Linked DNA regions of Homo sapiens. The protein of the gene in region 2 purifies or fractionates together with the protein of the main gene of each other region. This does not show direct contact. Each region holds a gene or a part of one and is shown on either strand. Other genes may lie near its edges.

What was found.
Region 1: the proteins of FHIP2B (region 2) and ZNF318 purify together in Homo sapiens (affinity purification with mass spectrometry; 3 studies listed by BioGRID and IntAct, with this or other methods). This does not show direct contact.

The regions. Positions count from the first base shown.
Region 1 is NC_000006.12:43,338,608-43,354,214, forward strand, and holds part of ZNF318 (zinc finger protein 318), read right to left. Parts: intron 13,870-15,607; coding exon 13,770-13,869; intron 10,019-13,769; coding exon 9,717-10,018; intron 4,273-9,716; coding exon 4,069-4,272; intron 3,605-4,068; coding exon 3,505-3,604; intron 2,302-3,504; coding exon 2,183-2,301; intron 1,896-2,182; coding exon 1-1,895.
Region 2 is NC_000008.11:22,084,256-22,100,756, reverse strand, and holds the start of FHIP2B (FHF complex subunit HOOK-interacting protein 2B), read right to left. Parts: upstream 11,608-16,501; 5' UTR 11,504-11,607; coding exon 11,459-11,503; intron 10,997-11,458; exon of another isoform or gene 10,903-10,996; intron 6,318-10,902; coding exon 6,239-6,317; intron 6,148-6,238; exon of another isoform or gene 5,904-6,147; intron 4,421-5,903; coding exon 4,248-4,420; intron 3,242-4,247; coding exon 3,137-3,241; intron 3,041-3,136; coding exon 2,918-3,040; intron 2,690-2,917; coding exon 2,447-2,689; intron 2,335-2,446; coding exon 2,138-2,334; intron 1,810-2,137; coding exon 1,701-1,809; intron 1,474-1,700; coding exon 1,397-1,473; intron 1,054-1,396; coding exon 864-1,053; intron 164-863; coding exon 18-163; intron 1-17. UniProt on the Homo sapiens protein: Able to activate MAPK/ERK and TGFB signaling pathways. May regulate the activity of genes involved in intestinal barrier function and immunoprotective inflammation. May play a role in cell proliferation.

The DNA.
Region 1 (15,607 bases), on a different chromosome or scaffold from region 2:
ACTCCCTCATCAACTATCCCCTCAGACAGCTCCTTTACCCTTTCTTTTAGTTCAGTGTTTGTCTCTATCTCACTTTCTCTACAATCCTCAGATTTACGGAGCTCTTGGCTTTCCTTATCCTGGTTAACAGATTCTCTGAGGTGGATTTCTACCAACTTCTGAGATTCTTTGCACTGTATATCTAACAGTTGAGGAGGTGGTTCTACACCAGGTGGTCCTGGCTCTCCCAGGTCAAGCTCACTCTTCTCTGGAGATATATCCCTACTAGTGTCACTCTGGAAGGAACTAGAGGTCCATATGGCCAAAGTGTCTGTCTTTGGGGTAATTGTTTCATAAGGCCTGCTTTGGCACAACCTTGTCAGAGGCTGTAGGAAGCCATAGGTGCTGCCTGTGCTTTTTGGGCCTACATGTTCTACAACTGACCATTTCCCTAGGGCCACCAGAGTTTTTGCAATGGGCTTTTCAGAGTTGCTAACTATAGGAGCAGCGACCAAACCCTCATCTTGATGCAACTCCTCTTGGGATGCACTGCTGTTCAAAGGAGAAGTAGAAGAGGTGTCTGAACTTTTGGTTCTAGAGAGGTTGCTATTTTCCCCATTGGCCAATGGACCACCACTTAGCTTAGTCTCAGGGGCCCCCTTAGTCTCAGGGGCCCCCTTTCCACCACTACTATAGAATATGTCATACAGGTCCTTAGCATTGGCTGTGGCTAAGCATGAATTTCGCTTCTCTAATTTTTTGGCTTGTTCACTGAACACACTTGAGAGGGGTGGTGGAGGACGTACTAACACAGAGAACAGGGTCTGGTCTCGGTCACTCTCACTCACCCCAGGAGCTGTCTCATCAGAAGGAATGGCAGCTGGCTGTGCTGAGGCCATGATGGCTACAGGCAACACTGGGTTCAAAATGTTAGGACCCACGAAGCCAGGGCTGAGAGTCTGAGATACAACTGGGTTTGATTTTACTGGAGCCAAGATAGCATTTGCTTGAGCAGCAGACGGGGCAGCTGGATGAGGTATAACGGGGGGTGGTGGAGGTGGTGGAGGTGGGGGTGGTGGAGGAGGTGGTAGTATTTGTTCAGGTAAATGAGATGGCTCACTCTTTTCAGCCAACACCACTTTTTCCTCTGGAGACCCTTTTAGAATCACCTCTTCCCCTCCAAATGCTTTGGAGATGATGTCTGGAGGTAAGAGGAGATCAGCTGAAGACTCTTTAACCACTGGCAGAGGTTTAGCAGTGGTTCCAGAGGACTTAATAGACAGAAAGGTGTTAAGAGGAGCTGGCTTGCTCATTGTGGCTGAACATGACTTGCGGAGTACTGTGGATGGAATAGGCAGGTTGGGTCGGATCTTAGTCTGTGTGGAAGTTGTCACAACAGGCATCCAAGGGCTGGTATGTGCAACAACAGTTTTCCCAGAGAGCTTGATTTTGATAGGCTTTGCCTTCCCAGCTTCAGTTTTGCCATCCTCTTTGTCCTTACTACTTTCTAGAATCTCTTCTTTAGAGATACTTGGGGTCACCAATGAACTTTTCTCCTCTTCTTTTTCTGGCTTCTTCCAGCTGAATTTCCCAAAAGAAGATGATGTTGGTGATTCCTTCTTTACCTCTTCTTTTAACTGGAGTTTGATGCCAGTGTTCCTTTTATTTTCAGCTTTTTCAGGGGAGTTCCTACCCTCAGAGAGTTGGTCTTCTAATTTCTCAGAGACCTTGTCATCCTCCTTTACTTCTTTCACAGCCTTTGCCTTTTTTTCTTTCTTCTCCTCCTTTGGTTTCTCACTAAGTTTGCGCTTTAGCTCACTCTGCCGTCGCCGTTCTGTCTCTAGGACCACAGCCAAGCCAGCTTGGCGGTCCAGATTCCGCCGCTCCTCATATAATGGGTTTTCATCCACATATTTCTGGGAAGAAAAAAGATAAAGACTCAAAAACTGGTGAAAATACAAGAGAAAAAAATCTTGGCCCCGCTACTGTTAGAATTCATTTAGTAGAAATCCCCAGAATTATCTTCCTCAAGGACATACGGGATGCTATCTGCTGAGCATCTCCCACTAGGATTGAGGAGAACTTAGAGGTTATATGGAATTTGAAGTGTCAATGGCTTTTTCTGGCTCGGACGCCATTTGACAAAGTCAAAATAATTACTTCAGAAAAGTTGGAAACTCCACAGCCTACTACAAAGACCAACCTTGTATTTCTCATTGTGTTGGTGACCCTTCACATGTTGCTCCCCAGAAATTGGATCCCCCAAAAATTCCTCACAGAGCTGGCAATAAAATCCACTGATGGGAACCAGAAACTCAGAGCCTGGAAGAAGTAGAAAAAAGTCAAGGAAATAAGTCGATTCCACCCAGAATGACAGCAACCAATGGAAATCCCACCACCCCTTTGCAGTAAAATGGTTACAGTATAGAGGGCCTTACCCACTTTGAAGTCAGAAGCAGTATTTAGATGAATCCCAATGGCACAGTCTTTCCAACCTAAGGCTTGAACTACAGTCCTCTATTTCTTCTACCTCTTGGGAACATTATACTGGTTAATTTAGGAGTTTCCTGTGCCAGATTAATTCCTGTTGCTGAGTCTCCTCAAACCCTAACTAGCACCAAGCATCTCAGGAAATATAAAAACTATACTCCCAAATAGCCCATTACCATTTTATGATGATCTCTCATGTTGGTATTAATTACTGAGGAAACTATCTTCTGTAAATCTCAAGGGTATAGTAGCAGCACTAGCTACTTGTGAAGGTAAGAAATTGAAAAGTTTATGGGCTGAGCACAGTGGCTCATGCCTGTAATCCCAGCACTTTGGGAGGCAGAGGTGGGCAGATCACGAGGTCAGGAGATCGAGACCATCCTGGCTAACACAGTGAAACCCCGTCTCTACTAAAAATACAAAAAATACAAGGCATGGTGGCAGGCGCCTGTAGTCCCAGCTACTTGGGAGGCTGAGGCAGGAGAATGGGGTGAACCCGGGAGGCGGGGCTTGCAGTGAGCAGAGATAGCACCACTGCACTCCAGCCTGGGCAACAGAGAGAGACCCCATCTCAGAGGAAAAAAAAAAAAAAAAAAGAAATTGAGAAGTTTAAAGACAAAGGAAGTTTCTGCTTCTCCACTTACCCCTTAATAACAATGACTCAAAATATTGTATAGTTCTTAGTTGAAAAGGCAGTTAAATTACTGCATCTCCTGTCCTTTTTAACCTGGATTCCAAACAAGTAAGATTTTGGGCCCATAAGCCAATGACAAAGACAATTCTGTTTTAAGTGACATGTCTATGTTTAACATCTGTGAATAGATTTTTGGCCATATGGGTAGAGATCATGGTCTTATAGATCTCTTTATAGCTTCAGGACCTAGTACACTGTTTTGTACACAGAAGGCATTCCTACGGCTTTGTTAAAAGGAATGGCTGTCTCATGCTATGCTGCTTCCTACAATGTTAGTTCAGGGACACCTCTTCCTCAACTGAATGTAAGGAAACCACAAAGGTGGCAAAAAGGAAACATACCTTTTGCAGGAACAGTTATCTTGTCAGTGCGCTTTATGGCATCTTGCTTGGCCTCACTCTGGGTCTTTGAAGCCCAAGGTCTGTTGTAGGGATCCAGTGTCTATTTGTAAGAGGCAGAGGTGCTCACACAACAGCACTAAAAGCTCAATGACCCACTTTTCTCTTTTTTTTCCCCCATAATAAGACCAGGGGACCAGAAGCCCCCAGCTACCCACCCCCACCCCCTCTGCCAACTGTTTTAATGGAAATCACCTGTGGAAAAGGTAAACACATGTTAGAGCAAGTACCAGAAAAAGGTAAAATGAAACAAAAAAATCAGGTACTCAAGGAATCAAAAGAGGCAGAAACCTCACTTACACTTGTCATGGTGTTTAGTTACAGCCAAGTCCCCTGGACTGAGCCCTGGGGATGGTGTCTCCTTTGTTGGTGTCTCTTGGCTCTTCAGACTGGGGCTCCTGCCCATATGAGAATGTTTCCTTTTCCAGCTTTGCAATGCAGATAGGGGTATAGAAGTTTGAAGAGAGTGAGGGTGGGAGTGAAAATAACAGAGAGTAGGATACCAACCTGTGTGTGCTTCTTATTGTGCATATGAGTGAAGAAATCAAACATGGTCCCACAGATGGTGTTGCAGTCTTTGCACCAGTGATTGCCAGCATCATAATACTCATAAGCAGCAGTGGGCTGATCCAACTGCTTAGTGGCTGACTGGGGGCTTTCGGCAGGCTTGGGGCTCTTAGTACGAAACTTCTCATTGTTTACTTTTGATTCCTAGAGGGGAAAAATCTGTACTTACAAGGAATTCAAGGCAATCTAGACTTGTCTTCTGTTAGAAATAGTAAGTGGCCATAATAATAGAAATAGGGCCATATGACCATATTTCCAATGTTTAAAGCTGCACAAGTTGGGGGGAACCCTAACAGAAACATGTCTCTAAGACATAGAACTATTTGACTTCATAGTGCTATCACAGCATAAAAAGTAAATCATAATGGCAATATATTTACTTACATATCCTAAAATATCTCTAGAAGAACAGCCAAGGTTGTGGAAACATTGGCTGCCTCTGGGGAAGGGAAGTGGAGAACAAGGATGGGTAGGAGTCTCTTCACTGTATACCCTTTAGTAAATGTTGAATATGTTACCTATGCAACTAAACAGTTAAATTTGAAAATCATGACAGCTAGGGAGGGAAGAAAAACCAATATGGAAAAGGTAATTGACAGGCTAAGCAAAGCAAATGCAGAAAATAGGTGATAGTGAACTCATCACATGCATCCTGGTATGAAAAACTGGAGAGAAGGGTTGGTGTACATAGATAAAGTAGACTATACAACTACACATAGATAAAGTCATCTATGTAGAATGATTTAAAGGAATCTAGGAAAAACATTCCTAACTGCCTAAAATATCACTTTTAGAATTTAACAACTTTAGAGGCCAGGTGCAGTGGCTCACACCTGTAATCCCATCACTTTGGGAGGTCGAGGTGGGCAGATCACTTGAGGCCAGGAGTTCGAGACAGGCCTGGCCAACATGGTGAAACCCCATCTCTACTAAAAATACAAAAATTACCCGGGCATGGTGGTGTGCACCTGTATTCCCAGCTACTCGGGAGGTTGAGGCACGAGAATCACTTGAACCCAGGAGGCGGAGGTTGCAGTAAGATAAGATTGTGCCACTGCACTCCAGCCTCAGCAACAAGTGAGACCCTGTCTCAAAAAAAAAAAAAAAAAAAAAAAAATTTTAACACCGTTAACATGTATCCTTTTTAAAAATATATCAACTTCTTAATATTAAAGTTATCAACAGCAAATACTTTAATATGAATTAATTTATTACCAAGCTGGAACAAGGCACTCAGGAAATGAGAATTTTGGTTAATGTTCAGGAGTAAGGCACAGGAAAAAAAGATAATTTTTGCAACTCAGAGGCTCACTATGAATGGGGTTCTATAGTACACAAGATGAAGAGCTGGGTACCTGGAATATTGGCTCACGCAGGGAAAAAGGTAGGATACAGAAAGGGAAACAATTGGGGCTTCAAAGATACTCTTTCCCTACCTGAGTCCTATTCAAGAATCACTAAAGAAATCACACCAGACAGGCAGGGGATGGGAGAGTTCATACACTCCTGGTGGGAGTATTAACTGGCACCATCTTCTAGAAGATAATCTAGGAATACATTACATACCTCAAAATACTGTATACCCTTTAACCCAGCAATTCACTCCTTGACATTTATCCTATGGAAATTATCATGTCAAACAACAGGTGATTTGATTGGTTAAATAAATTTTGCTTAACCATGCAACCAAAACAACAAAAAATAAGGTTGTTAAAAATGGTATTATAGAAGTGTATTTACTGACATGGAAAGATGTTCATGATATACTGAGAAAACTAATAAAATACACTTGAATAATCAACAAAGATATGTAAATCGGCATACAGCGTTGAATATCACTTTATCCAAAATACTTTCTCTAACCACTCTATACTCCTTATCCTGTTTTCTTTTTTTAGGCACTTCTCATTACCTAACATGGACTTATTTATTTATCATCTTCTGCTATTTAATGAGAATATGAACCTTGTCTATACTGTTCAGTGTGATACTTCCCATATCTAGACCAGTTCCTGACACTTTATTGGTGACCAATACATATTTGTTAAGTGAATTGATGGACAGAATTAATACTTTGGTGTATGTATTTGGAATAACATACACCAAGGTATTAATAATAAATTAATGTATTTGGAATATATAATAATACCTTGGTGTATGTATTTGGAATAACATACACCAAGGTATTAATAATATTATACACCAAGGTATTAATAACAGTGGTCTCGGCTGGGCCCAGTGGCTCATGCCTGTAATGCCAGCACTTTGGGAGGCTGAGGTGGGCAGATTACTTGAGCTTAGGAGTTCGGGACCAGCCTTGGAAACATGGCGAAACCTCAACTCTACAAAAATACAAAAATTAGCCAAGTGTGGTGGTGGTGAGCACCTGTAGTCCCAGCTACTGGGGAGCCTGAAGTGGGAGGAATGCTTGGACCTGAGAGTTGGAGGCTGCAGTGAGCCATGACTGTGTCACTGCACTCAACTTAGGTGACAGAGTGAGACCCTGTCTCAAAAAAAAAAAAAAAAAGTAATAATAACAGTTGTCTCTAGGTAGATGAAATTACAAGTTTGTATGTGCTTTTCTGAAATGAACAGAAAGGGAAAGAAAATCTCAAACCAACTATACATTTTAAAGAGAGGTAAAGAAAGAAGAAATACCAAGGACAGGTAGGAAAGAAAGGCTGTGGACATAATATTCCTTACTGCTGAGATGAAAACTGAATTGTAACATATCCGTTAGTTTCAGAGACCATGAAGACGCACCCAAATCAAGATGACAGATTATCATTGGGTTCGTACATGAATAGAAATCCAATGTATAAGTCAATTACAAAGGACCAGAGCTTTTAAATTCTTCTCCCATCAAAGGCCCTACCTAGACTGAAGACCCAGGTATAAAAGACTAGGCCTACCTGGTTGAGAAAGAAAACTCTCCTAGGAAGACATGGAAAAAAATAGAGCTTGGGTGATAACACAGAATATATTCTCTTTCCTACCTCTCAATATTAACTGAGGATGTACTATGTGCTAGACATATTGTATGCAATGGGAAACACAAAGATAAAAAAGATTCCTCTTTTATCCTCTCGGGCCAGGTGGGGTGGCTCACATCTGTAATACTAGCACTTTGGGAGGCTGAGGCGGGAGGATCATCACTTGAGCCTAGGAGTTCAACACCAGCCTGGGGACGGGCGCAGTGGCTCATGCCTGTAATCCCAGCACTTTGGGAGGCGGGGGCAGGTGGATTACCTGAGGTCAGGAGTTCGAGACCAGCCTGGCCAACATGGTGAAACCGTCTCTACTAAAAATACAAAAATTAGCTGGGTGTGGTGGCACACGCCTGTAACTCCAGCTACTCAGGAGGCTGAGGTAGGAGAATTGCCCAGAAGACAGAGGTTGCAGTGAGCGAAGATCACGCCACACGCCACAGAATAAGACTCTGTTTCAAAAAAAAAAAAAAAAAAAAAAAAAAAATGCTGGGCAGGGTGGTTCACGCCTGTAATCCTAGCCCTTTGGGAGGCCGGATCACGAGGTCAGGAGTTTGAGACCAGCCTGGCCAATATGGTGAAACCATGTCTCTACTAAAAATATAAAAATTAGCCGGGCGTGGTGGCACGTGCCTGTAATCTCAGCTACTCGGCAGGCTGAGGCAGAAGAATTGCTTGAACCTGGGAGGCGGAGGTTGCAATGAGCCGAGATTGCGCCACTGCACTCCAGTCTGGGTGACAGAGCAAGAACTCTGTCTCAAAAGACCAGCCTGGGCAATATAGCAAGACCCCATCTTTAACCAAAAAAAAAAAAAAAAAAAAAGCAGCTCTCATTTAGTGGAGACAGACGTAAGAAGAGTCTTTAAATAAGACAACGAAATAAATTTTACAAAGAAACAAATTACAGAGTGCTAAAGAAGGCTGACTAGATCTGGGTGGAATTCTGGAAATTCTTCATGGAAGAGGTGGTATCCAAATTGGGCTTTAATGGGTGAGTGGGGTTGGGAGAAAGATTATTCCAGGCTAATAGGATTATTTATGCAAAACCAGAGAGGTGTAATACCAGATATTGCACATCCGGAAAATTGCATTTTGAGGTGACGCAGCGTAAGATGTAATATAATGTTTCTTCAGCAGTATTCATTACTATGTGCTGGGCCCTGGGCTATATATTGGGAATCATATTGAACAATGACACATATAAAGTCCCTGTAACTTTTGAACCTTAAAATCAAATTAGGGGAACACATTTAATTATAAAATCAGATCTGTCATAAATGTTAAGAAGGAAAATTACAAGATATTATGGGAGTGTATATCAGGCAAATTTAACAGTCTAGGGAATCAGAGAAGGATGTCAGGGAAGTAATTTAAGATCCAATCTAAAGGATGAATTGGAGTTAGAAGAGTAGATAAGGAAAGAGTTCGATTTGCATGGTAAAGAAAGGGAACAGAAAATGTGAGGTCACGAGAGGAGATGATACATTTGAGGAATGAAAAGGTTAGTAATGAAACTACAGTCAGCAAGAAGGAAAGAGGCATGAAATGAGGTTGAGGAGGTAGGCAAGGGATTAAGTATCATGATCACTGGCTATATGTGCAAAAAGAGTTAATTAACACAGCAACATAAGCAAAAACTGATGTGGCTTGGACTTGAATGTCAATGGAGATGATAAGGTGCATGGAATCGAGATTTACTTTGGAGAGGGACCTGACAGAATTTGTAATTGATTGCATATGGAGCAGTTAGGGAAAGCAGAGCACTGAGAGTGACTTTTAAGTTGTTGGCATGAAAACTGTCGGACAGTATGCCATTCATTGAGAATGCATAACAATGGAGAAAGAAAAAGTTGGAAGGAGGTTGAGCACAACCATTAATTTAGTTTAGGACATGCTCAATTTCAAGTGCCTATGAGATAATGAAGTGGAAATGGTGAGTTACGTTGTTAGACACTCAGAAGACTCATTTGACTAGAACATAAAACTGGCAATTGTCACATGGCATTTTAGCATAGGACTGGATGAAATGGCCTAGGAAGAAAGAGCAAATTCTGGCAAGGACTGAGCCCCGAGAAACTCAAAAATTTAAAGATTATGCAAGAGAGACAGCAAAGGATACTAAGCAGGAGCATCCAATGTACTACGAGGAAAAGAAGTGTGACAGAAGCCAAGGGAAAAGAGTATTTGTAGGAGAAAGTGATTCTTGGCCTCAAATGCTGCTCATTTGAGAAGTAAAATGTATTTACTGACTTTAGCAACACAGTAGTGACCTAGACATGAACATAGTTGCTAAATATGAACCCCCCAAAAGGGTATATACAAGTTCTGAGAAGATCAGAAGCCAGATAGGAGTGGGTTAGGGAGTAAATGCTGGAACAAGAACATAGAAGGTTCTGAATACTGAGGATTTAGGATTCTTTGTGGGCAACAAGGAACTATGCTGAAATTCTGAAGAGGAGTACCACACTCTGATCTATACTGTAAGAAAATAATTAACAAGAGTAAGAACAGTTTGAAAACCTAAGTTAAGAAAATGGTTAGAAAACCATAGGAGTCTAAGGGAAAAAAAAGATGATAGAAATGGAAAAATTGAGTTGTTACCTTGTTGGAGGAGGAGTTTGAGAACGATGACACTTTTTCTGGGCTCTTAGATTTTTCTGCTTTCCCAGGCTTCTCTGTAGGCTCTCTACTGTCACTTAAAGACTTCTGGGATTTATCGAAGATGTTAATTCCCAAGATCTGAGCCACTTTGTCCAGTTCAGATTGCTTCTTTTCTGCCTCTTCTGCCTCTTGCCGTAGCTCTGCAATGTCCTTCATAATGTTATCCTGAAGCCGACTCACCTCCACCAAGAGAGGATCTTTGTGGCCATCCTTCTCCCTTCGTTTCTTGCGCAGCATTTCTCCTGAGCAATCAAATGTCAACAAAAAGAAGCACAGGGAAAATAAGACGAGTCATTTCTCATTTACAAGCAATAATTTGTCAGGGCTTTATGGTTACAAAGTCTTTGCCCACAAACGTTTCTAAGAGTGGCTAGGCGTGGTGGCTCATGCCTGTAATTCCAGCACTTTGGGAGACCAAGGCGGGTGACTACTTGAGTTCAGGTGCTCGAGACCAGCCTCACTAACATGGTGAAACCCCGTCTCTACTAAAAATACAAAAAATTAGCCGGGCATGGGGGTGGGCGCCTGTAATTCTATTTACCCGGGAGGCTGAGGCAGGAGAATTGCTTGAACTCAGGGGGCGGAGCTTGCAGTGAGCCAAGATCATGCCATTGCACTCAAGCCTGGGTGATAGTGAGAGACTCCGTCTCAAAAAACAATTTTTTTTTCTAAGAGCAAGTGAGACTCTCCTTCCACATGGGTTGGTGTAAGTGAAGCTTCTATGAAGGTAAAGAATGGGTTATGACATTATCTTTTGTGTAAAGGTTATTAGCTAAGGATTTATGGACAGGCTTCAGGGGCTCCATGAACTCCCATAACAGTATATATAATTTTGTGTGTGTCTCTCAAAAACATTAATAAGTGTTGTAACTATGAATTTAGCAGTTGTCCTCTCTTCAGAGGGCTGAAGAATTATTTAGAGGGTAATATATTTGACTTTATCTGATCTAAGGACACTTTAACAACTTCTTCAATGAGTTTTAGGTTTTGCCTCTGGTTTATCTTTTTTTTTTTTTTTTTTTGGTAGAGATGGGGTTTTGCCATGTCACCAGGCTGGTCTTGAACTCCTGAGCTCAAAGTGATCTGCCTGCTTCAGCCTCTGAAAGTGCTGGGATACAGGTGTGAGCCACCACACCCAGCTGGCTTTTTTAATGTTATCTCCTGTTCCAAACTGCAGATCCTCTGGTGTTAATCCTCACAGGATAAATAACTCAATTTCTCATCCCTAAACAGTCCAAACCCAGACAGAAGCAATTATATCTTCTCCCACTCTCTGTTCTTTCATACTATCAGTATTTAGGAGCCTTGTTATGTTCTTTTCCTCACTGTGTATGTGAATTCCTAAAAGCATAAAGAAATGGAATAAAAAGGAAGGCATCAGGGAACATTTTTGTGTGTGTGTGCCAAATTTAAGGAAAGACCAGACACTGTGGTTCATGCCTGTAATCCCAGTGCTTTGGGAGGCTGAGATGGGAGGATCATTTGAGTCCAGAAATTCAAAGCTACAGTGAGCTATGACAGCACCACTGCCCTCCAGCCTGAACAACAGAATGAGACCCTGTCTCTTAAAAAAAAAGAAAAAAAGGCCGGGTGGGGTGGCTCACACCTATAATCCCAGCACTTTGGGAGGTCGAGGCAGGCGGATCACCTGAGGTCAGGAGTTAGAGACCAACCTGGCCAACAGGGTGAAACCCCGTCTCTACTAAAAATACAAAAATTAGCTGGGCATGGTGGCACACGCCTGTAATCCCAGCTACTTGGGAGGTTGAGGCAGGAGAATTACTTGCACCTGGAAGGTGGAGGTTGCAGTGAGCTGAGATTGCATCACTGCACTCTAGCCTGGGCAACAGAGCGAGGCTCCATCTCAAAGAAAGAAAGAAAAAGAAGAAAAAAAGAAAGTACTCAAAAACGATGGAGACATATTGAAAGGACACAGGAGCTAACTCACAGGGGGTCCCATTGGCCAAATTTGGAACAATTTGAGCATGAAAATAAATAATGATAATAAAAGATTATAACTTATCAAATGAAGAATCCATGAATTCATACTCATATAAATGAATAAACAAATGGGAGTGAGGGTTAGGAAGTTCCCTCTTACAGTGGAAAGCCAACTAATAAAGCTAGAAGGAATGAGGAACCTTGAAAAATCACTATTTGATAACCATCACAGGCCAGGCACAGTGGCTCATGCCTGTAATCCTAGCACTTTGGGAGGCTGCAGAGCTCAGGAGTTTTGAGACCAGCCTTGGCAACATGGCAAAACCTTGTCTCTAGCCAAAAAAAAAAATTAGCCAGGCGTGGTGGCTCATGCCTATGGTCTCAGCTACTCAGGAGGATCACCTGAGCCAGGAAGCGAGGCTGCAGTGAGCTGAGATCATGCCACTGCCACTGCACTTCAGCCTGGGTGACACAGCGAGACCCTGTCTCAAAAAAAATTTTTAAATAACTATTATCATAATAACTGGCTCAGGCAAGACTCATCAATGGATGCTAAAACCAGTGGGTGAAAGTCTGAGGAGTAACTGAATATTTACATAGTCTCAAAGTATCTCCTCTATAAGATTCATATTAATTAAAAAGGATAAAACAGTAACTTTATAGTGGAGAAATCTGGCAGACACCACCTTAACCAAATAATTAAAGTTAACATCACCAGCAATGGGACAAATCAACACCTGATACAAACTCAGCATCATTTCTGTGATAGTCTCGCCAAAAATGAATAACCTGAATTTAATCATAAGGAAACAGACAAATCAAAATTAAGGGATATTCTACAAAATATGTGACCTCTTATCTTCCAGAATGTTAATGTTATGAAATACAAACACTCAGATTAAAGAAGAGTACAGGAACGTGAAAACTGAATGTGATAAATAATCTTGCACTTTGTTTTGCTATAAAGGGCATTAACGGGACAATGTGAAATATGAGTAAGAATGGTAGACTGGATAATAGTACTGTATCACTGCTAATATCCTAATTTTGATAAGTGTATTAAAGTTATGTACCTTCTTTGTTGTTAGGAAATACTTAAGTATTTAGGAGTAAAGGAACATCACATCTACAAGTTACTTTAAAAAGTTCAGAAAAGGCCAGTGCAGTGACTCATGCCTGTAATCTCAGCACTCTGGGAGGCCGAGGAAGGAGGATTGCTTGAGGCCAGGAGTTTGAGACCAGCCTGGACAAAATGATGAAACCCCATTGCTACTAAAATTACAAAAATTAGCCAGGTGTGGTGGCACACACCTGTAATCCCAGCTACTTGGGAGGCTGAGGCTTGAGAATCACTTGAATCCAGAAGGCAGAGGTTGCAGTGAGCCAAGACTGCACCACTGCACTCCAGCCTGGGCAACAGAGCGAGGCTCCATCTCAAAAAAAAAAAAAAGTTCAGGAAAAATTACACACACACATACACACAAATTGAGAGAGAGAAAAAGATAGAGCAAGCGTATTAAAATGTTAATAATCTGGCAGGGTGTGGGAGCTCACGCCTGTAATCCTAGCACTTTGGGAGGCTAAGGCGGGTGGATCACCTGAGGTGAGGAGTTCGAGACCAAACTGGTCAACATGGTGAAACCCCATCTCTACTACAAATACGAAAAAAATTAGCTGGGCATGGTGGCAGGTGCCTGTAATCTCAGCTACTTGGGAGGCTGAGGCAGGAGAATCACTTGAACCCGGGGGACAGAGGTTGTAGTGAGCCAAAATCACACCACTTCACTCCAGCCTGGGTGAAAGAGCAAAACTTCGTCTCAAATCATCATCATCATCATCATCATCATCATCATCATCATCACCACCACCATCATCTGGGAGAAGAGTACCTGAGAATTCTTTGCACTATTATTGCAACTTTTTTGTAAGTTTAATTACGTCAAAAAAAAATTTTTAATGAAGTTTCAGGTTACTGAACCTGTGTGAGAGTACCAAATTTGGGTCTCCTACGCAAGTTATTACAAAAAGGCAGTCATGCAAAGCAGCTGATACCTTGTTGTTTATGAAGCCGCTCTAACTCGGTCCTAAGATAGTACATCTTCTTCTGGCGGGCTTCCCGGTCATTCTTTAGTTTTTCCCTCTCTTCAATAACCTGCAAAATACAAAGTGGTAAGAGAGTCCATCTCCTCCAACATTCTCTTTTCTATTTCTCTCTTCCAGAAGCCTTCTTCCTAGACATTATCTGAATGTAAGGATCCAAATGCCTGCACACAGGCTCTGACCTTACTGTCAAAGTAATATTTCGTTCTAAGTTCCAGAATAGAACTGTCCATCTTTTCAAAAACTATACTGTCCAGAAAGGTTGTTTGTTTGTTTTTTGCAGGAAGGATCTAGGGCACTGATAGCAACTATTAGATAGTGGTTCTAAGTTCCAAAGGGAACCATAGATAAAGGAACCATATGTGTTATAGGTAAGGGACATATTTCATGTTGTTTATTTTCACTGCTCCTTGCAAACCAGGGATAACCCATAGGCAGTATGCCCAGAGTAGCATGTTGTTTAATCCTCACATTTTCACTATTTTATAGTCAGAAAACTGAAGTTGTACAAGATTAAGTAGAATACTCAAAGTCACACATTAAGAGTAGATTTACAATCCAGGTATATCTGCCCTAAAGCTCATGATCTTTCAACTATACTACTACCTAATGAAAAAAAGCAAATATGGCTTGTCTATACTATACCAGCATATAATAGGCCTGTATGTGTCTATAATAGACCTATGTATTATCAGCGCCCTGACTTAAGGACTAGATTTATAAAAGGAAAATAAAGAGGAAGTGTATGACCTCCAAACACTGTCTCTAAAGTTTTGTCTACATTGAACCTATTCCCTTTCCCAAAAGACTTCAGTAAAACTAAAGATTGAAGTTCAGGGTATTTAAGTCCAATAGAAACTTAAGAGAAGTGTTTTTTGTCTTCCCAATAATTGGCTAAAACTTTTTAACCGGAAAAAAATGAGACTGGCCCTCTAATTTTTTTCTTCAGAACTTTTTTTTTTTTTTTTGAGATGGAATCTTGCTCTGTTGCCCAGGCTGGTGTGCAGTGGCATGATCTCAGCTCACTGCAACCTCCATCTCCTAGGTTCAAGCAATTCTCCTGCCACAGCCTCCTGAGTAGCTGGGACTACAGGCGCGTGCCACCACACCCGGCTAATTTTTTGTATTTTTAGTAGAGACAGGGTTTCACCGTGTTAGCCAGGATGGTCTTGATCTTCTGACCTCGTGATCCACCCGCCTCAGCCTCCCAAAGTGCTGGGATTACAGGCATGAGCCACCACGCCCAGCCAGGTCTTAACTTTTATGAGCAAACCAAATTAGACACATTACATTTTTATGTTTCTAAACAAAGTGAGTTGCTAGGTATAAGCACCTTTACAATTAATAGTATGTATTAACTCTTCCACTCAAAATTCTTCTATTATGTATTCCCTATCTTGATGTAGTTTTCACCTACTGCTCTAAATTATCAGAATTATTAGAATTATTATATCTTTACCCCAGTCACTGCTTTCTTCCCACAGGCTGGGGACCCAATGAACCTGGATAATATAAAAAATGACTTTAGAGGCCAGGCACAGTGGCTCATGCCTGTGATCCCAGCACTCTGGGAGAGGCTGGCAGGGGAGGATCACTTGAGCCCAAGAGTTCAAGATCAGCCTGGGCAACAGTGAGAAGACTCCATCTCTATATAAAATATACGTATACATACACACACATACACACACACACACACGTAATTTTTTAAATAAATAACATGTCAAAAATGTTACTGTTACTCCTGGACTCTAAGATAAACCAGAACAAGCAAAGTTTATTTCTTGGTTTGC
Region 2 (16,501 bases):
GCGCCGGTTTCACTTACAGGGTGTCCTCATAGCTCTCAGGCTCTGGTGAGCCCCAGGCCACGTAAGGGCGGCCCTCAAGGTTGCGCAGGACCAGGCTGTGGATGATCCCCTCGTGGGGCTTCTGCAGCAGCTCCTCAAACAGCCGGAGTGTGGTGATGCTGATCTGGAGCAGGAAGGGGGTCGGCAGGATAGCCCCTTCCCCACCCAGCTCCCAGGGGTGCCTTGGCATGGCTAACCCAGATAAGAAAAGACCTCTGAGGCAGAGTCACCTCCCTTGGCTGGATGCTAAGGTGGCAGGTTTTGGGGGTAGTTGGGGGGTGTGGGCCTAGGAATCCAGAAGTCTGGGTGGTCCCTGGTATGTGACTAATTTGATGTGCAATTTCAGGCAAGCCAATTCGCTTCTCCGTGCCTTACTTTCCATGTCTGAGAAATGGGAGTATCAACCTCGCCTACCTCACGAAGTAGTACGTGTTAGCCTTCCAGCGAGCCAAGTGTGCAAAATATAAAATACTGTAAAAAAATAAGCTGGGAACAGTGGCTCATGCCTGCAGTCCCAGCACTTTAGGAGGCTGAGGTGAGAGGATCGCTTGAGGCCAGGAGTTGGAGACTGCAGTGAGTTATGATCACACCTCTGCACTCCAGGGCCTGGGTGATAGAGCAATACCCTGTCTCTTTAAAAAAAAAAAAAAAAAGTATATGATCATAGAAAATTAGTGTGTGATAAAAGTGGCTCGGCAGTGTTTTGCAGTTCAGTGTCTCAAAGGTGGAGTCAACTGGGAACACTAATGAAATGGGAAGAGTGTTCAGGAAATCCCTCTGGCAGGGGTGGTGAGAGGAACAGAGATGGAGGTCCCCCACTGTACCTCATCAGAGAGGTGGTCACAATGCCCGATGAGATGAGCATACAGGGTGTGGGGGTTGTCCCCGGGGGCTTCAGGCTGCCGGTCTGTGCCCAGGAGGAAAGCCACGGCCTCCCGCAGCAGCGCAGGGGAGCGAAGCTGGCGCAGCATGGCTGTGAGGAGGGCGGTGGAGGTCAAGATGCTCTGCTCGGACCTACGGGAAGAGGGCACCTTAGCCAGGCCCGGTGTGTGCAGACAGCACATGAGTGCGGGTGGCCGAACCCTTCCTGCTTGCCTCGCATGTTTGGCTGGTATGTCTGTGGTCACTTGCCCATCCCTGCTGAGGTCCTGCAGGGAAGGGTAGGAGGCCTTCGTTTAGCCCACGTAGCTCAGAGCCACGTGCACATCATGGGGCAGGCCTGGCAAACATCACCCAATGGGGTCCACAAATGGGATTCTGGTCAAGAAGGTGTCTGGCCTTAGGGACAGGACGAGGCTGGGTGGGGTAGGTGGTTTACTGTAGACCACAGTCATGCCTGAGGGAACTAGACACTTACACGTGCAGGAGCTGGGGCTGCAGGGTCTCCACGAAGAAGTTCTCAGCCACAGCCTTCGCCAAGGCGTCCGCAACCACCTGGGTGCCAGAGAGCGCCAATGTGTTTTGCCCTCATTACAATTCCAGCTGAGAAATAACCGTGTTCTTGCGCGGCGCCTGATGCCACAGGAGAGGGTCCCGGCCCGCCTGGGGCCCCGCTTAGCTCCTGGACCCCATGTTTCCATGTCCCTGCTCCACTTGGTCCTCGAGATGGAGATGGTACAGGGAACAGCATGAGAGCCCGGCCTCCGCCCGCCCCTGCTCACCGTGTGTGCCTCTGTGATGAGGTGGTCGCAGTAATCAAACCAGCCCAAGAAGGCAGCCAAGGCCTCCTTGCCAGGGAAGGAAGCCTCATCAGACGGGGCACTGGGTAACCTGAAGGAAGAGGGGAGTGAAGTCTCAGAGAGTGGAGAAGGAGCTTCAAGGTCTTCCTCAATGTGTCCTGAAACTGGGCCCTTCCCCTCTCCTGTGGAACCTCTGTGGCTGGGGATCAGTTATCTTGGGGGTTTTATGGACAGAGGCAGCAAAACCAGTACTTCCCTGGAGGGCAAGAAGTCCCCTGGGGATCAGCTGCAGCCTTGGGGAGAGGGTGGCCAGCAGGGGTCCCTAGCAACGTGGAACCCCAGGGGAGCTGGCCACCAAAGACAGGCAGGGCTGCCAGCAACTGAAGATGCTGGCCGGCCTTCCCGGGCTGGGCACCCACCTCCAGCTGATGCCCTCTAAGGTGGCAATGTCTGCGGGGTCCAGGAAGACAGGCATGGACCGGTACAACTGGCAAAGGTGCCGGACGATCGCAGGGCAGCAGGCGCTGCTCTGTACCAGGTAGGTGGCAGCTGCTGGGGAGGCCATGCTCACCAGGAGCAGCAGGTTCTCCTGGGCCTTCAAGGCCACCCGACTCTTCTAGGGGATGAGGATACAACTTCAGGGACATGCATGTGAGCCCCCAAATCACCCCCCAGCCGTCAACCCACCCTTCCCCCACCCCCAACCTCTCCATCTCTGCTGCCAGCACCTTGCTCTGGCACAGCCCAAGCAGGGAGGTAATCAGGTTGCTCTCTGTGGTCCCACCGTCCAGCTCCTCGGTCTCAGCAGGCATGTGGCTGTTCAAGGCCTGGGCCCCACAGGACTCCCCGTCCAGCTGGGGCCTGGCAGGAGCACCATCGTGGGAGCAGTCCTTGTCCCCGTGGCTGGTTGTGTCCTTAGGCAGGGCAGTGGGTTCTCCGCATGCTTTCTTCCTACCTACAATCTTTTTACCCTGAAAAGAGGGTGAGATGAGGCCAGACCTGGTGGGGACCACTTCCCAGGGTCCCCCACTGGGACCGCAGGGTGGGCTGCCAGCAGGGCGTCGGCCTGGAGCTGGAGGGGAAGCTGCCTGCGTGCCTCCCGGGTACCTGATCTCTGCTTCTGCCTCCTCAGGAGGGCAGAGGGGGCTTGCCCTGGGGTTCTGGGCCCTCCCCCTCCTGTTCCCGATCAGAGTGCTCACTTCCAGGATGTAGGCGAGCAGCTCTGGGTCCTGCTGGATCTTGGAGCAGAGGACGGTGGTGAACTGCACCTCCTCCTTTTCTGTAACGGATCCGGAAGCAGTCCCACCAAGTCGGAGGAGTTTCTGGAAGAGCACCAGGACAGAAACAGAGGGGAGAGGGGTGGCAGGGGAGAGAGGGGGCCTCACACCCAGACACCCCTTGGCTTCCGGGCCCCTCACCTGCACAGGCCTGTGGACGCTGAGGTAATGCAGCAGGGGGTGCTGCACCTGCGCCAGAACCTTGCTGAAGAACTGGAACACCTGCTGCCGCATGCCTGGGGGGTACTGAGGCCAGGGACAGAGCGCCTGTCAGAGCCGTGTCCCCTGCCTGCCGCATGCCTGGCGGGTACTGAGGCCAGGGACAGAGCGCCTGTCAGAGCCGTGTCCCCTGCCTGCCGCATGCCTGGGGGGTACTGAGGCCAGGGACAGAGCGCCTGTCAGAGCCGTGTCCCCTGCCTGCCGCATGCCTGGGGGGTACTGAGGCCAGGGACAGAGCGCCTGTCAGAGCTGTGTCCCCCACCTGGAACACTGCACCCCCAGAGAGCCCCAGGCTCAACTCCTCCCTCAGTTCCGGCTCAGAGGGCCCGTTCTCACAGGCCTGCTTCCCTTGCCACGTTGTTCGAAACTAGCCTTCCTGGCACTCACAACCCCTTTTCCTGCATCACTGTGCTCCATGACTGGGTCATTATTGACCCATCACAGGATGGTCCTGCCTCTCCCACTAGGATTCTTGTCGAGTTTTCTTTCCTTTTTTTAAGAGACAGTGTCTTGCTCTGCCTCCTAGGCAGGAGTGCGGTCTCACGATAACAGTTCACTGCAGCCTCCATCTCCTGGGCTCAAGCAATCCACCCACCTCGGCCTCCCACGTAGCTGGGGCTACAGGCACGCATCACCATGCCTGGCTCTTGTCAGTATGAATCCCTGCTGTGTCCCCAGCATCTAGAGCAGAGCCTGGCACATGGCAGGCCCATCTTTGTGGAGTGAACTGGGAACAGGAGCGCTGGGATGGTGGAGTGTTCTAAGTGAGACAGCCACAGTGCCCGTCCTGTTTGCTCCTCTCGCCCGAACTGCCACTTTCAGTGTCAGGACTGGGAAGAGCATAGGCAGAAAGGCCTGGAATCCAGGGAGCCCCAGGCTGCCCACTGCCCACCGCCCACCTCAGCCTGGCCCAGCACTCAGAGGGTCTCCCACCTCGGCCTGGCCCAGCGCACAGAGGCCTCCCACCTCGGCCTGGCCAAGCGCGCAGAGGCCTCCCACCTCGGCCTGGCCCAGCGCGCAGAGGGCCTCCCACCTCGGCCTTGCCCAGCGTGCAGAGAGTCTCCAGGATCTTGTGCTGCAGCAGGTACTCCAGGCAGGGCCCTGCCTCACCCGCGGCCGCCTGCTGCTGCTCTTCATACACCAGGATATCCAGCATCTGCTTCAGCCGCCAGGGAATGTCTGTCTTCTTGGCGGGGGTGCTTTCATCTAATGATGTTTGGGAAACAAGGGTGAGTAGGGTAAAGAGGGGCACCCCGGCTTGAAAACTTCACCCTCTCCTGCCAAAGCCCAGAAAGGGGAGGTCCTGTCTGGGAGAGGTGGGGGAAGACAGCTGCTGGCAACTGGGAAATGGAAGTTTACAGTGAATGCTTCAATATTTAAGAAGACAAAAGTCCTTCCAGGCTCAGGACACAGTCCTCTGAGAACGCATGCATGCCCAGCCCTTTATCAGGGGGCAGCAGCATCGGTTTCCTTCAAACCCTAGGATGGGTACAGAGACAGGGACACATGGTCCTGGGCCCACAGAAGGCTGCTGTCAGCTCTGGGCCTGAGTGGACACTGTGGGCTCAGGGCTCTTGTCACATAACTTAGAAGCTGTAATTCCAGCAGCTGCCTGAGAGAGAACCTCCTGGGGCCTCCCCCACTGACACTCAGAGAAGGCAAGCCTCTGTTTTTCACAAAGCAGAAAAAAACATCTGTGCCACCACCTTCAGGTCTGACCCAGTCCTGCTCCCTGTACCAACGCCCTGACGGGGAAGCTACTTAGTGGGGGCTTTTGCAGTCAGAGTCTCAGTGTGTGTTTTAAAGAAAGTTCTGGTGCTTCAGGGCTAGACTTGGAGCACCCCCTAGCTTTCCTTTAAGGAACAGGAGCTTGAGTAGGGCGGCCTGCCCCACGCACTTCCAACCCTTCTGGTCTAGGGACCATTCTGGAAATGAAAGGGCTGGATGGGGGAAGCCCCAGGTGAATTTCAGCCAGTTCTGATCTGATCTTACTGAGCTGGTGGACTGAGGCTCTCCTTCAAGAGATCTTTAACCTGAAGAGATAGGTTCAGAACCAGGGGTGCGCTTTTCCCCCCCAGGGAACATGAGGCAATGTCTGGAGACCTTCCTGGTTGTCCCAATTCGGGGGTGGGGTGTGCTACTGGCACCTAGTGGGTAGAGGCCAGAATTACTGCTGCACATCCCACACCGCCCAGGACAGCCCCGCGCAGGGAAGGCTCCAGGTCCAATGCCAACTGTGCCAAGATTGAGAAACCTGGTCTAGCAGAACCCTCAGAGGGTCCCACAGATTTCTGAATTTCCTGGGCTGGCCCGGGCTGGAAAGAAAGCCTGTAGGAAAGGTGTGGGCTGGGATCAAGCCCCAGTATGAACTCCAGGAAGGGAAAAGTGAGGGATGCAGGATATGGTTACCTGGCAACCAGTCCGTATCCACCCATGGCAGCCTCATGACTGCAGAGCAGCCACTCAGATGCCATCCCCTCAGTGAGCGGTCCTGATGGGACCAGGTGCCAAGGCTTTGGCTCTTTGGGGTGTCAGCTTGGAGAGAGGGACCCAGGCATGTTACCCACCTTGGTTTTCGTTCTCCTCCTACCCCAGATCTCTACAAGGACATTGCCCCTAAGCTGGCTCAGGGGAAAGGGGAATTTATTAAATTCTTTTCTTTTGATCATTAAATCCTAGGCACAAGCACCTGGGGCCTGAAGGTCTGGAGCTGGAAGCTGGGGGAAGTGCAGCCACCTCTTCCTTGCAGAGTCAGGCCAGTGAGACCCCCAACCAGGCTACTCCTTCCTCACACAGCCTCTTTCCAAAAGGTCAGAGTGGGACCGGCAGCTAAATCATCAGGAGTGGAGTGGCCCAGGGCTCTGGGTCTTCTGTCTGTCTGGTTCTCTGTCTCCGTGAACTCGGCTCCAATTCTGAACGACTGGGCAGGTTACCTTTCCCAGGACACCTGAATGGTGACACTCTGCACACTCCTTCCTCCCCGCTCCCTCCAGGGTCCCTGGGCTGGGGAGGGCCAGGCCGCACCTGTGCTCTCGATGTAGTAGTGCGTGATGCCCTTCCAGTGCTCCACGAAGGCCTGCAGCAGGTCAATGCTGGGCTCGCGCTGCGGAGGGCAGACACACAACCTCAGTGGGGGCCACAAAGGCCAGGGAGCCCCTGCCCGCATGGGAACAGATATTCTGAGTGTCAGGTTCATGCTAGGCCTCCTCATGAGGAGGCACCCTGCTCCCTGGCTTTCAAAGGGAGGAATAACACATTTCCTCCAGGACACACTGTCATCTTGCCAAGGATCTCCTGACAGGCACTTCTCCCTAGATACCCCTCCCTCCTGGAAATGCTGTTTTCTTGCTGTATGTCACAATCCTGTCCTGTCTCTGTCCTGGAGGTGCTAAGAATGTTGCTGGGGGAAACAGACACAGATTATTTCAACACAGCATGGTTACGCTACAGTAGAGGCACATAGAGGAACACGGGAGCGCAGTCCCCCAAAGAAAAGCAAAATGATACAGATCGAAAATGTGGCAAAGGTCAGGTGCAGTGGCTCACGCCTGTAAGCCCAACAGTTTGTGAGGCAAAGGTGGGCAGACGGCTCGAGTCCAGGAGTTTAAACCAGCCTCGGCAACATGATGAAGCTCTGTCTCTATAAACAATTTAAAAACTAGCAGGACGTGGTGGTGTCTGCCTATAGTCCCAGCTACTTGGGAGGCTGGGGTGCGAGGATCACCTGAGCCCAGGGAGGTCAAGGCTTCAGTGAATTGTGATCGCAGCGCTGCACTCCAGCCTAGGTGACAAGGTGAGACCCTATCTCAAAAAAAAAAAAAAAAAAAAAAAAAAGACAAAGCTTTTCCATTCCTCTCAATCTGAGAGTCTATGAAAATCTGTTCAAGACCACCACAGGCTCTGTTCAGCCGGAAGGGTAGGTAACATTAGCATGATATTAACAATGTGCCTTCCTTATAACATGCTTACATGCTTTCATCTTGTGTCCAAAGCCTGAGCCTGCACAACCCCAACTCCTCAGCCAGTGCTGTTCTCGTTTCCTCCTCTACCGGCTCCTTCTATCAAGCCCTGGAAAATTCTGGTTCTGCTCTGGGCAAGCCCCTAACCTCCCCCTTTTCCATGAGTGCTCTCTCCATCTCTACACCATGGCTGATACTGGCCTTGCACTGAGAACAATCACTTTCCCTGAAAACTTCTCAAAAACAACAACAACAACAACAACAACACCATTCCTTCGCTTTTCTTGCAGAGTAAATGTTTTCAGGAAAAAAAGAATTCTAATCATCCCTCCCCACAGCTGTGCATTTCTGCCTCTAGGTCTTTGCTGGGGCCACTCCTCTGCCCAAGGTGCTCTGTATCCCACTAACTGTCTGGATCGTGAAAGTCCCCAGTGAGGTTCAGTCCCCAGCAGCTCCACCAAGCCCTCTCCAGTGTCCCTGCCTGCCCACACCTCTCTGACCTCACACTTTACTGCACCACAGAACTGAGTAGCCACTCATGAAATCATTTGTTCATTCTAAGTGCCCACTATGTACAAGACACTATGCTAGATGCCACAAGCAACATGAGGATGACTAACACCTAGTCCTCAAGAAATGTGTCATGGAGAAGACGATATAAAACCGCATTGAATAACGAAGCTACAAGGAAGTAGTGTGAGGCCGCAGGAGAGGTGGAAAGTAGTGACCTCTCAGAAAAACAGGGGTAACTTCTAACAGGCTGGAACAGGGAAGGCTTTACCAAGATCACATCTCAACTAAAACTTGAAGAACCAGGTCAATATCAACAAGAGAAGGAAGACAGTCCCTGCAGAAGGAACTCTGCAAAGTGTGCCTGGGGAAGGGGTGGGCTGGCGAGACTTCGGAGTCTCTAATGCCAAGCCAAGAAGTCTCAGTCATTTTTTGCAGGCAGCAGGGAGCAGGTCAATGACAACTTTTTTTTTTTCTTCTGAGACAGAGTCTCAAAAAAAAAAAAAAAGAGTCTCACCGTCACTGAGGCTAGAGTGCAGTGGCACCATCTCAGCTCACTGTAACCTCCGCTTCCTGGGTTCAAGTGATTCTCCTGCCTCCCAAGTTGCTGGGATTACAGACATGTGCCACCACGCCTGGCTGATTTTTGTATTTTTAGTAGAGACGGGGTTTCACCATGTTGGCCAGGCTGGTCTCAAACTCCTGACCTCAAGTGGTCCGCCCACCTGGGCCTCCCAAAGTGCTGGGATTACAGGCATGAGCCACCACACCCGGCCATTGGCACCTTCTGAGCAGTGTTTTCGGAAGACTCATCTGGCAGTTGGCCTTGGGAGAGGAGGTAAAGGCAGGAAGAATATGCTTAGAAGGCCACTGCAACATGGGGAGGGAGGGATGACATTCACAGAACTGGAAACTCCCCTCAGTCCGCAGGGCATCTTGTCTTCTTGCAAAGCTAGTTGGTAGGGGCTGCAACCCTTCTCAAAAGTAGCACCACCCACAGTTATTCCAAATATTCCATCCCTGTGCAGTGACCGCATCTCACTACATTCTATGTGACAGTGCCTGCTGTGCTGAGCAATCATCTCTTCTGCTAGATGATGAGCTCCCTGAGAGCCAGGGTTCTGTGTTTTACAGCTAGCCTGCCCTCAATGGGCTCAGCACATAGTGAATACCCATGAATATTTACCAGATATCTCAGGAAACTCCTGGAGAGATTCTTTCCCTAGTTCCTTGTTTTAGAAAGTCCTCTGGCCCTTCACCAGCCCTACAATTATCTCATAATTTCTGTGATGGGGTCTCCTTTAGCCTCAAAATTGGCTTATAGTCTTTGAAAACCTTGAGCTGGGCTTTAACCAAAAAGAATACTCCAGTACGGCAGGAGACACGGGAGAGGCAGGTTAACCAGCACAGGCCATTAGAGAGCTGGTGACACAGGTGTGTGATCTTTACCTAACTCCACCACCAGCTATGATAACTCCAAACCAAAGGCACTAGACCCAACAATTTCTCTTTAACGATATTATTAGTGGCCAGACATGGTGGTGGCTCACACCTGTAATCCTAGCACTTTGGGAGGCCAAGGCAGGTGGATCACTTAAGGTCAGGAGTTCGAGACCAGCCTGGCCAACATGGCGAAACCTCATCTCTACTAAAATTACAAATATTAGCTGGGCGTGGTGGCGCAGCCCTGTAGTCCCAGCTACTCAGGAGGCTGAGGCAGGAGAACCACTTGAGGTGGAGGTTGCAGTCAGCTGAGATCGCCCCACTGCACTCCAGCCTGGGTGACAGTGGAAGACTCCATCTTAAAAAAAAAAAAAAAAAAAAAAAAAAAAAGCTGTAATGATTCCTAATCTGTTAGATCAGAAGAGGGCGGGAAGGAGCAGTCTTCCTACTCAATGAGTAATCAGTTGACTTACTAGGATCACACTTGGTGACCAAGGCTTGGGAAAGACCTAGACTGGCGACCTGAGGGTAGAGCACAAAAGAGGAATTCCCGTCTCCCTGTAGGGCCAACCACACCGCCCGGACATAGCCTATATGGTCAATACTAAAGGGCCCGGAAGATCACCTGCCTAAAAAGATCTCCCTCCACTGCCAAAATCTCCTGCCACTGATGCCTGTACTTCTGTCATTGGAAGCCTTAGAATTTGACTCCTAGCCGGGTGCGGTGGCTCATGCCTGTAATCCCACCACTTTGGGAGGCTAAGGATCGCTTGAGGCCAGGAGCTCAAGACCAGCCTGGGCAACATGTTGAAACCCTGTCTCTACAAAAAATACAAAAATTAGCCTGGCGTGGTGCCGCATGCCTGTAGTCCCAGCTACTCAGGAGGCTGAGGTGGGAGGATTGCTTGAGCCCAGGAGGTGGAGGCTGCAATGAGCGGAGATCGCACCACTGTAGTCTAGCCTGGGCTCAGAAATAAATAAATAAATAATAAAAAGAAAAGAAAAAGAAAGAAATTCACTCCTCAGGACTGAGGAACTGTCTGGCCTGTCTCACCTCCTGTAAATGGAGTGTTCCCCAGAGGTATGAATTGGTTTATCAGATCACTTTTGAAGATCACAGCTGTTTTGACTGGGGATGGGGGAAGGGGAAGAAAAATCATTTTGGAACCCTCTCTACCTGGATGCCCCAAGGCCCTGGCCCTGGGTCAACAGCAGGGCTGGGAAGGTGGAGGAAGTCATAGTTTCTGACTTTCTTCCCAACTTTGCCTAAGGCAAACTTCTTTCAACAGGAGCTCCCATGAGGGTTGGGGAGGAGGTGGTGGGGAGGAAGGAGGGTGAAACCCAAGACTTTCTCTCCTGAGAAAATCTGATACTCAACTCATCAATTGGGGGAAGATTTATACTAGGAGGCAGAAGTATTGCTGACTTTACAGACAGCTTCTTGGCAGAGTTACTTTCAACAGCGGGCACCCCCCCCACCCTACCGGGAATACCCCCACCCTTCCTACACAGCGCTACATCTTGCTGAACGAACCCTAGTAGTAGGCTGCCTGCCAGCCTGCAGCCCCAACAAAAAATGGCAAAAACACAAACTGACGGCACGTGAAACATCAATGGACTCTCCTCCCCGCACAGGGCCACCCAGGCCCCACCACGGGCGGCATGTCCCTAACTCAATTTGGCTTGTGAGGGGTCACAGCCACGCTGGAAACATCTGCACCCAATAGAAGGCGATTTCCCCGGCTGGGGGCCCACCAGCCTGCCCCGGGTCTTTACCCTTCGTGGGGACTTGGACCGGCAGGGCCTGCACTTCCCACGTCCCGGGGTGACGGGAAGGGCGTCCTGCACCCCAACAAGGTCCTGGAGTTGTCTGGGAGATCAGACCGAGGGGAAGGGACGGCGATTTTTTCAAGCCCAGGCGAGGCGGTGGGGTGGAGCGGAGGAAGGAGGCAGGCCCACCGGGACTGGGGGGAGGCGGCCTAGGGCCCCGGGGGGCAGGAAACACCCCAAGCGGTGACAGGGAGCGTCCCGGCGGAGGCGAGTTCGGGAATTGGGAGAGACTCCGGGGCCAGGACGCACAGACAGGAAGCGACGCGGGAGCAGGCCGGGGAGGTGGGGCGGTCGGGAGGAGTCTGGGAGCGGGACTGGGAAGAGCGAGGGGAAGCGGGGCGCGGCCGGGGAGGCAGAGGAAGGGGCGCCGCGGCCCGGGGGTCCCTGCCCGAGGGGGCCCGCGCCCGCCCGCCCTCCTGCGGGCCGCGCCCGGCTCCGCGCCCGCCCAGCCCGGCCTAGGCCCGCGACTCCCGGCGGCCCGGCCCGGCCCTGCCGGCCTCACCGCCCCCACGGCTTCCTGCAGCAGCGCCCCGAGCCGGCTCAGCATGATGGCGCCCGGCCCCCGGCTCCCGGGCGAAAGCGGCGGCGGCAGCGCTCTAGGCGGAGGAGGCAGCCCCGTGGCCCCGGCGGCCCCGGCGCGACGAGGGGGGCGGGGCCCGGCCGCTCCGCCCCTTCCCGGCCCGGCTGCGTGGCGCTGGCTAACCCCGGCTGGGGGCGCCCAGTCGGGCTGGGAACCGCCAGCGGTGGGCCCTGAGAGTTGGCTGGGAGGTGTTTTTTTTTTTTTTTTTTTTCTTTCCTTTCTTCCGAGACAGGGTCTCGCTTGGTCGCCCAGGCTGGAGTGTAGTGGCGCGATCTCTGCTCATTGCAGCCTCCAACTCCTGGACTCATGCGATCCTCCAACCCCGGCCTCCAGAGTAGCTGGGTCCACAGGCGCGCGCCACCACGCCTGGCCAATTGTTTTTTTTTTTTGTTTTTTTACTGGGAGGGGAGGTCTCACTGTGCTGCCTAGGATGATCTCCAGCTCCTGGCCTCAAGCGACCCTCCCGCCAGGGCCTCCTGAGTAGCTGGGATTAAGGCGGGAGCTAAGGGAGGTGTTTTCGAAGAGAAATTACAATTCCTCCTGAATTGAAGTCTCAGTCAGCCCCAGGCACATGGGCTGATGAGCTCCTGAAATGTGCTGGTCCCAACCAAGATGTGCCGTGCCAAGCACACCCCGATTTGGAAGATACAGTAAGAAAGGAAAGTGTGAAACTGCAACAACCATGGCTTATATTGATTACATATTGAAATGACTATTAGGTGTGTTGGGTTAAATAACGTATATTGTTAAAATTAACTTCACGTGTTGCTTTTTACTTTTTTGACAGGGCTATCAGAAAATGTTTATGGGCTGTGGGCGGTGGCTCACACCTGTAATCCCAGCACTTTGGGAGGCCAAGGCGGTTTGATCACTTGAGGCCAGGAGTTTGAGACCAGCCTGGCCAACATGGTGAAAACCCGTCTCTACTAAAAATACAAAAAAATTAGCCAAGCGTGGTGGTATGTGGAGGCTAAGGTGGGAGAATCACTTGAACCCGAGAGGCAGAGGTTGCAGTGAGCCAAGATCGTGCCAGTGCACTCCAGCCCGGGCAACAGAGTGAGACCGTCTCAAAAAAAAAAAAAAAAAAAAAAAAGTCTGCAGCTGAGTGTGGTGGCTCAAGCCTGAAATCCTAGCACTTTAGGAGGCCAAGGCTGTTGACCAGCCTGGGCAACATATGAAGATCCTGTCTTGACAAAAAATAAAAATACAAAATAACCAGGTGTGGTGGTATGTGCCTGTAGTCCAAGCTGCTCGGGAGACTGAGGTGGGAGGAGGATCACTTGAACCCAGGAGTTCGAGGCTGCAATGAGCTATGATCGTGCCCCTGCAGTCCAGACTGGGTGACAGCAAAATAGTGTCTCTCTAAGAAACAAAAACCAGTGTCTCTGCTTATCACTGACATCATATTGTGTCCGGAATTGGTAGGTTCATTGGTCTCACTGACTTCAAGAATGAAGCTGTAGACCCTTGCAGGGAGTGTTACAGCTCTTAAGGTGGCACGTCTGGAGTTTGCTCTGATGTTCGGATGTGTTTGGACTTTCTTCCTTCTAGTGGGTTCGATGGTCTCGCTGGCTTAGGGGTGAAGCTGCAGACCCTCGCGGTGAGTGCTACAGCTCTTAAGGCGGCGCGTCTGGAGTTTTTAGTTCCGCCTGTTGGGTTCGTGGTCTCGCTGACTTCAGGAGTGAAGCTGCACACCTTTGCCGTCAGTGTTACAGCTCACAAAAGCAGTGGGAAACCCAAAGAACGAACAGCAGCAACTTATTGCAAAAAGTGAAAGAAAAAAACTTCCACAGTGTGGAAAGGAACCCAAGCGAGTTGCCACTGCTACCTTGGGCAGCCTGCTTTTATTCTCTTATCTGGCCCCACCCTCATCCTGCTGATTGGTAGAGCCCAGTGGTCTGTTTTGACAGGGCGCTGATTGGTGCGTTTACAATCCCTGAGCTAGACACAAAGGTTCTCCACGTCCCCATCAGATTAACTAGATGCAGAGTGTTGACACAAAGGTTCTCCAAGGCCCCACCAGAGCAGCTAGACACAGAGTGTCGATTGGTGCACTCACAAACCCTGAGCTAGACACACGGTGCTGATTGGTGTGTTTACAAACCTTGAGCTAGATACAGAGTGCCCATTGGTGTATTTACAATCCCTGGGCTAGACATAAAGGTTCTCCACGTCCCCACCAGACTCAGGAGCCCAGCTGGCTTCACCGAGTGGATCCCGCACCGGGGCTGCAGGTGGAGCTGCCTGCCAGTCCCGCGCCGTGCTCCCGCGCCGTGCGCCCGCACTCCTCAGCCCTTGGGTGGTCGATGGGACTGGGCGCCCTGGAGCAGGGGGCGGCGCTCGTCGGGGAGGCTCCGGCCGCACAGGAGCCCACGGAGCGGGTGGGAGGCTCCGGTATGGGCGGGCTTCAGGTCCCGAGCGCTGCCCCGCGGGAAGGCAGCTAAGGCCCGGTGAGAAATCGAGCGCAGCGCCGGTGGGCTGGCACTGCTGGGGGACCCAGTACACCCTCCGCAGCTGCTGGCCCGGGTGCTAAGCCCCTCATTGCCCGGGGCCTGCAGGGCCGGCCGGCTGCTCCGAGTGCGGGGCCCGCCAAGCCCAAGCCCACCCGGAACTCCAGCTGGCCCGCAATCGCCGCGCGCAGCCCCGGTTCCCGTTCGTGCCTTTCCCTCCACACCTCCCTACAAGCTGAGGGAGCCGGCTCCGGCCTTGGCCAGCCCAGAAAGGGGCTCCCAAAGTGCAGCGGTGGGCTGAAGGGCTCCTCAAGTGCCGCCAAAGTGGGAACCCAGGCAGAGGAGGCGCCGAGAGCGCTGTGAGGACTGCCAGCACGCTGTCACCTCTCAATATGACGAGAGGGAAAGGAATCAGTTTCCCTCGGGAAGGAAGAATAGCCCCTGTCAGAATTATAGAACCTAGAGTTTTGGGGTCTCGGGCTTCACAGGACCTGCCTCACCTTTTAGGACCCATTCCCCAGTGGGGCTGAGGCACAGGAAATGCTGACCTGCCCAGAGTGGGCTCTGTGCTGTGGTGTGGAGCCTGCAGTCCAGACTCTGAGCCAGGGTGGCCAGTGTCTGGGCCTCAGGCCCTGAGGAGGGCCAGGGTTCAGCCAAGCCCAGGCTGAGTGAGAATTGATTGGGACCTCAGTTCTCTGACAGGTGGGAGTTCCAATTCAGTCTCTGCAGATTTCTAGGCCCACCTCCTCACAGGTAAAGGACCCAGGCTGGATAGGTCAAATCAGCTTGCTTCCCTTCAGCATGTCTCAGAGGACTCTAGGGGATAATGAAAGTACATCAGGAGTTCATAACCTTTTATTCGACTTAACTTTTTACATGTTATTTTTAAAACTCTAATAAAAGTCAGTGTACACACTACATGTGTTATAGTCCAGAAATATCAAAGACCATGAGGTTTTATTAAATTCTGAGGCCAGGTTAGCCCATTTAGGGGAAGACCTTTGAAAAAAGCCTCTCCTATCAGCTTAAATGAAGAGTTGAAGATGATTTCACGGTAAACTGAGTTTTATGTATTCTTTTTTTTTTTTTTTTTTTGAGGAGTCTCGCTCTGTCGCCCAGGCTGGAGTGCAGTGGTACAATCTTGGTTCACTGCAAGCTCTGCCTCCTGGGTTCACGCCATTCTCCTGCCTCAGCCTCCCAAATAGCTGGGCCTACAGGTGCCCGCCACCACGCCCGGCTAATTTTTTGTATTTTTAGTAGAGACAGGGTTTCACCGTGTTAGCCAAGATGGTCTGGATCTCCTGACCTCGTGATCTGCCCACCTTGACCTCCCAAAATGCTGGGATTACAGACGTGAGCCACCACGCCCAGCCCCTATGTATTCATTTTTTTTTTTTAGATGGGGTCTTGCTATGTTTCCCAGGCTGGTCTCAAACTCTTGACCTCAAGTGATCTTCCTGCCTCAGCCTCCCGAGTAACACGGGTAAGCTGCTTTAAACATGCAAGGCATGAAGGCCAGATTCAAGGAGAAGGCCATATGGCTGGGTGCGGTGGCTCATGCCTGTAATCCCAGCACTTTGGGAGGCCAAAGCAGACAGATCACCTGAGGTAGGAGTTTGAGACCAGCCTGGCCAGCATGGTGAAAACCCCATCTCTACGAAAAATGTAAAAAATTAGCCGGGCGTGGTGGTGGGCACCTGTAGTTCCAGCTATTTGGGAGGCTGAGGCAGGAGAATCGCTTGAACTCAGGAGGTGGAGGTTGCAGTGAGTTGACATTGCACCATTGCACTCCAGCCTGGGTGACAAGAGAGAAACTCTGACTCAAAAAAAAAAAAAAAAAAAAAGCCATATAGTCAATGACTCTCAATGTGAAATAATTTGCTCATGCTTTAATTTTTTCATTTTTTATTTATTTATGTGTGTGTTGTGGGGAGGAGGCACTGAGAGGCTCTTCCTAAGGCTTTGTTTTAGGGACAAAGAGCTCCAGTCTGAGCTGCTCTAATTTTTTTTTTTTTTTAATTTTAGTAGAGATGGGTTTTCACCATGCTGGCCAGGCTGGTCTCAAACTCCTGACCTCAGGTGATCCACCTGCCTTGGCCTCCCAGAGTGCTGGGATTACAGGGGTGAGCCACCGCGCCCAGCCTTCTTTTTTTTTTTTTTTTCCATAGGTTATTGGAGAACAGGTGGTGTTTGGTTACATGAATAAGTTCTTCAGTGATGATTTGTGAGATATTGGTGCACCCATCACCCGAGCGGTATACACTGCACCCAATTTGTAGTCTTTTATCCCTCGCCCCTTTCCCACCCTTTCCCCCTGAGTCCCCAGAGTCCATCGTGGGTTTTTTGTTTGTTTTTTTGTGACAGAGTCTTGCTCTGTAGCCCAGGCTGGAGTGCAGTGGCACGACCTCGGCCTACTGCAACCTCTGCCTCCCAGGTTCAAGCGATTCTCATGCCTCAGCCTCCTGAGTAGCTCGGATTACAGGCGTGTGCCACCATGCCCAGCTAATTTTGTGTA